Linked DNA regions of Homo sapiens: region 1 is linked to region 2. The links come from fine-mapping of genetic effects on gene expression. A gene starts in region 2. The other region holds a variant in brackets. All regions are shown on one strand. Distances are between the middles of the regions. Region 1 overlaps BRIP1 (BRCA1 interacting DNA helicase 1). Region 2 holds the start of MED13 (mediator complex subunit 13).

Region 1 (2,793 bases), 240 kb after region 2:
ACTTTCTAAGTACCCAAAGTTGCATGTTTCATTCTCTAGTAAATACTGTTTTACTTCTTCCTTTACAGTGTTTACCTTTCATGCAGTACAAGGCTGAATTAGAGTGATGAGAGTGGATACCCTTGCCTTGTTCACAACCTTGTGGTGGAAAACATTCTGGTCCCTCACTGTTCTGTATGACATTTGTGCTAGGTGTTCTGTCTATGCCCTTTGTCAGGCTAAAGAAGTTTCCTTCTATCGCTAGTTGGCTGAACATTTTTATAATGAGTGGATGTTGGATTTTATATTTAAAGTTTTACTGCATTCCTTGGTAGGATTATATGTTTTTTCTCCTATATCCTGTTGATATGGTAAATTACATTGATTAGTTTTTGAATGTTGGCCTGACTGTAAATTAGTGGAATAAAACCCACTTGATCATGGTATAGGACCCATTTTATATAATTGTTAGATTTGACTTGCTAAATTTTGTTAAGGATTCTTTCCATCTATGTTCATAAGAATATTGGTCTATAGTTTTCTGTAATGTCTTTATCTGGCTTTGATATCAAGGTAATGTTGGCTTTATAAAATGAGTTGGGAAGTATTGATATTACTTCTTCCTTAAATTTTTGATAGAATTCACCAGGGAAGCCATCTTGCCCTTATGTGTTATTTTTGGGAAGACTTTTACTTTTAAATTTAATTTTAAAAATGAGTATAGGAGTATTCACATTTTCTGTTTCTGAGTCAGTTTTAGTAATTAGTATCTTTCAATAAATTTGTCCATTCAAGTTTTTGAATTTATTGGCATAATGTTCAAAATATTCTCTTATTTCTTTAAGTGTCTGTAGGATTTGTAGTGATATGCCCTCTTTCATTTCTGATATTCATAATTTGTGAATTTGTGTCTATCTCCTTTTTTTTGCTTAATCTAGAATTCATTTTGCTCAATCTGTAATAGGTAGTAGAGGTTTATCCATTTTATTGATCTTTTAAAAAGTTTTTGTTGACTTTCTGTTTTTCCATTTTCTATTTTGTTGGTTTCTGCTTTTTTTTTTTTTAATTACCATTGTTTTACTTTCTTTGGATGTAATTTTCTCTTCTGCTAGCTTCATAAGATTGAAACTTGGCCAGGCATGGTGGCTTACCCCTGTAATCCCAGCACTTTGGGAGGCTGAGGCGAGCGTATCACCTGAGGCCAGGAGTTTGAGACCAGGCTGGCCAACGTGGCAAAACCCTGTCTCTATTATAAATACAAACAATTAGCCAGGCATGGTGGTGGGCGCCTGTAATCCCAGCTACTCGGGAGGCTGAGGCAGGAGAATTGCTTGAACCCAGGAGGCGGAGCCTGCAGTGAGCTGAGAT[C/T]GTGCCATTGCACTCAAGCCTGGGCAACAAGAGCGAAACTCCGTCTCAAAAAAAAAGAAAAAAAAAAAGATTGAAACTTAAATAGTTGATAACTGATTTTGGACCTTTTTTTTTCCTAAATAAAACACCAATGAAAGCTATACATTTCCCTCTAAGCACTTCTTTATCTGTGTCCCACAAATTTTGATGTTGTTACATTTTTTTCTGATTTCCCTTGTGATTTCTTCTCTGACCCAAGATTTATTTAGAAGTCTAAATAAACACTAACTAGGTGTTTTTTCCTAGATATTTTTCTCTTACTGAGTTCTAATTTATTTTTGTGTGGTTAGAGAATAGATTCTATATGATTTCAGTTCTTTTAAATTTGACGATCTGTCTTGGCAAATGCTCTGTGAGTTTTTGGAAAGTATGGGTATTCATTTATAAAAATCAGTTAGGTCAAGTTTGTTGATTATCTTGCTAAGATCTTCTGTATCCTTGCTGGTTTTTTTTGGTCTACTTATAAATTAATTAGAGAATACTGTAAGGGTCCTATAATTGTGGATTTGCCTTTTCTTTCAATTCTACCAGTTTTTGCTTCATGGGTTTTCATGGTCTGTTATTAGCTGTATACACATTTAAGATTATTATGTCTTCTTGATGTATTAACCCATCTGTCATTATGAAATGTCTTTGTTCTGAGATCTATTTTGGCTAACATTGATATAGCCACTCCAGCTTTCTTAGGATTAATGTTTCCATAGTATATATTTTTCATCCTTTTATTTTTAACCTATTTGTGTCTTTAGATTTAAGATAAGTTTCTTATAAATAATTGTCTTCTTTATTTATCCAATCTGACAACCTCTTCTTTTTAATTGGAACACTTATACTATTTACATTCAGTGTAATTATCACTGTGGTTACTATTTGTTTTCTGTTTGTTCCAACTTTTCTTTATTCCCCTTTTCTGTCTTCTTTGAATTAATTAAACATGTTTTAGGATTCTACTTTACCTTCACCACTGTCTTCTTAAGTATACCTCTTAGTTTTATTTTTGTGAGTTGCTTCATACTTTGCATCTTAAACTTATCACAGTGTACCTTCAAATAATATTTCAACTCACAAATAATGTGTAAGAACCTTCTGCCAATATACTTCCGTGTCTACTCTCCCATGTTTTGTGCCATTTTTGTCAAATATTTTACTTCTACATTTGTCATAGCCCTCACAGTGTTTTGTTATTTTTAGTTTAAATCATCAGCTATGTACAAATTTACAAATGAGGAAAATAATTTCTTTCTTAACCCTCCAGTTTTTCACTTCTGGTGCCCTTCATTTTGTAGGTCCAAGTTTCTGTATTGTGTAACTTTTCTATTAGCTTAAAGAGCTTTATTTAACATTTGCATTGCAAATATTTTTTCAGCTTTTTTTCTTACCTTCATGTTTTTAATGGTAAAATATATA
Region 2 (2,793 bases):
TTTTACAGATGAGTAAAGACACAGAGCAGGAAGTGATTTGCTCAAGCTTGGAACCCAGGCAGTGTGGCTCTAATTCCCAGTCTATTAACTACAGGGCAATATTTTGTTTCTTAAATTTATATCTTCATATCACAACTTTTAGGTTGAGGAGTCTTATCCCCATCCAGATCATCTGACTCCCAAATCCAGAGGTTTGCACCTGCACCCCAGCGGCCTCGCGAAATAAATGAGAATGTCTTGGAATTTTTGCCAATACTTTCTCTTCCAAAGAACTCAAACTGATTTCCACGTAATTCTCACTGATTTGTGAAATGAACCTTCCTGGACTGTAAATTTCCCCGCAAAGAGAGGGCCAGGGCCCCGGGTCGTTTTATACTGGCCGGGGCACCCAGCAGATGGCGCTATGTTAGTGGCCACCAGCTGGCTGCCCCGTCCCCCGAGCTCACCGCCTCCGCCGAAAGCTTCCCGGCCCTCCCTCGCTCACTTCTCTCTCCCCCTCCCAACCGAGCCCGGGCCCACGTGACCTCAAGGCGGCCAATGGGTGAGCAGAGAGGGCGAGCTGGTCCCTGTGGCCGCCATTAAAGCGAAGGGAAAACCCGTGAATTCGGATTAAAGGGGGAAAAACACCGCCCGCTGGGCCCACAAAATGGGGGAGACTACGGCGTCCAGCCGGTGAGGCCACAGGAGGGCAAACTTTAGGCCGGCTTGGCCCAGGAACGACACGAAGACAGAGCCAGAGAATGGTCTGAGCCCGCAGACGCCGCCACCACCTCCGCCGCTGAGGAGACTCTGGGCTTAAGGACATCGCCGCTGCCGCGCCGGGGGCCTGGGCTTCTCTCCCGGTTCTCGCCCTTCCCGCTCCTGTGCGGGCGCCTCTCCGCCCGGGAGAACCGTCCTGGGCTTGGGCTCTGCCGTCTCGGACTTGATTTTGATTATTTATTGTGTAATTTATTATTTTTCTTGTGGTAGGGGCACACATCCCCTCCGTCCCCCAGAGAGGGACGAGCGTCTGCGGGATCCGCAGTCCGGCCCGCCAGGCGAGCGCGGCGCGGCCCTCCCGCCTCCGGCCCTCGGCCCCGGGCGGCTGGGTGCCGGCCGGGCGGCGGGGGCTGCTCGCGGCGGCGGCGGCGGCGGCGGCGGCGGGGGGGTGGGTGGGGAGGGCGGGCGCCCGGCGGCCTCCTCTTCCACCGCCCCCCCAACCACTACCCCCCCCCCGGCCCTCCCCGGTGTCTGTGTTTCTCTCTCTGGTCGGAGGCGGCGGTAATGGCGGATGGTGGGTTGTGGCGCCGGCGGCGGCTGCTGTGAGGGACGATGAGTGCCTCCTTCGTGCCGAACGGGGCCAGCCTGGAAGATTGTCACTGTAACCTCTTCTGCCTGGTGAGTGCCGGGGCCGGCGGGCGCCGAGGGAGGGGGGCCGCGAGGTGCGCCCTTGGGCCGTGGGGGAGGGGGCCGGGTCTGGTCCAGATGCCCGAGTTCCCGGGCGAGGCCCAGCCGGAGCCGGCGCCCTGCGAAGCTCCGCGGCCAGCCCCGGGAGGCGGCGTTCGCTCTCCTACGGTCCCGGGCTCTGTTTAGGGGAGTGTTGGCATTTTTTCTCGTCTTGTTTCGGACTCTCCTTCTCACCGTAGTCTCGTCCTCAACTTGAGCTCCTTATCTGGCAGGACAGTAACCTTTCCCTCTTGTCTTGCTTAACTGTTGCTTTTCTCCTTATTGGCCCTGTATCCCTGCTTCACACTTTACATTATTGCCCCTGCTCCCCACCGCCTTTATGTCTTACCCTTTTAATTTGGTTTCCCCATGTAAACAGGACCCCAGAACTTAAGCCCTAGAAACCTGTCTTGGTTTTACATTTTTTTTGTATGAGTCAAACTAACGCCAGGTTAGTTTCTTTCTTGGGTGACTTAAGATCTCTCTGTAAAAGCCAGTAGGTGCCATTTCATATGTTTTCTTTTTAAACTTTGAAAACAGTTTGCCATTTTTGACAATTTCTAGCCATCTTGCTTTTATTAGAACATGATGTTTTTGTGAGAGTGAAGGGGGCTAGTGGACGAGGTGCTGTGGTTTTGCACTGTTTCTATATTTATTGTGTTTTGGTTGCTTTTTCAGAATGTTTTGAGCAGGCTGCTCCCTTGTTTGATTGAAATGGAAAGTCGAGAGAAGCGGGATGTAGGGATGATCATTGTGTAGGTTAGCCCAGGTCTGGTAACATCCAACAGTTAAGGCTTTCAGAAGTACCAACTGTTGCAAATAACTTGTCCTGTATGGGACAGTAGCTGAGCTTCATCAATGACTTTAAGTTTGGGTGACTTTACTTTTTCATTTTCTCCTTTGTGCTATGAGAAATATTAAGAGTATATGATAGGTAAGTGAGTTAAGTGGGAGGAGCACAACTAGTTGGCAAGTGTAAACTGCCAGTCATGTATCAGCAGTTTCATTTTTGGCACCTTATGCTTTGCTCCTTTAAGTTAGATTAAATTACTGAATTCCTCTTGTCGAATTTCTTAACGCCCATGCTAAATTGAGATCTTTAATACTCTATCCTCGTCTACAGTATGTTTTTCTTTTCAATGTCCATTAATCAGCATCTCTTCACATGTAATAAGACATACACCAGGTTTTATATTTCTATCTTATCCAACTCAGTCTATTTTTGGTACTTTTAGGATCAGTTCTTTGAAGATAGACTAGCACAAATCTGACAGTTCTTTGTGAGTAGCTATTTGACTTTTCCGACAGGGGTGTGTGTGAAGAATTAACATAGATTTTTTCAGAACTTGTTCAGATGTCTTTTCATTA

Evidence for each region.
Region 1: its variant is fine-mapped to the expression of MED13 in whole blood (INTERVAL, PIP 0.95).

The regions. Positions count from the first base shown.
Region 1 is chr17:61,828,551-61,831,343 of GRCh38, reverse strand. The region is part of intron 6 of BRIP1 (BRCA1 interacting DNA helicase 1); the gene reads left to right. Among named protein-coding and RNA genes, the nearest start is that of BRIP1, 34 kb to the left of the region's middle. The variant C/T (reference allele first, on the strand shown) is at 1,348.
Region 2 is chr17:62,063,724-62,066,516 of GRCh38, reverse strand. It overlaps MED13 (mediator complex subunit 13), which reads left to right and starts at 1,239. Exons shown (of 30, transcript NM_005121.3): 1 at 1,239-1,377. The coding sequence starts at 1,312. RefSeq lists silencers at 449-528, 1,319-1,598 and enhancers at 579-838, 1,749-1,848.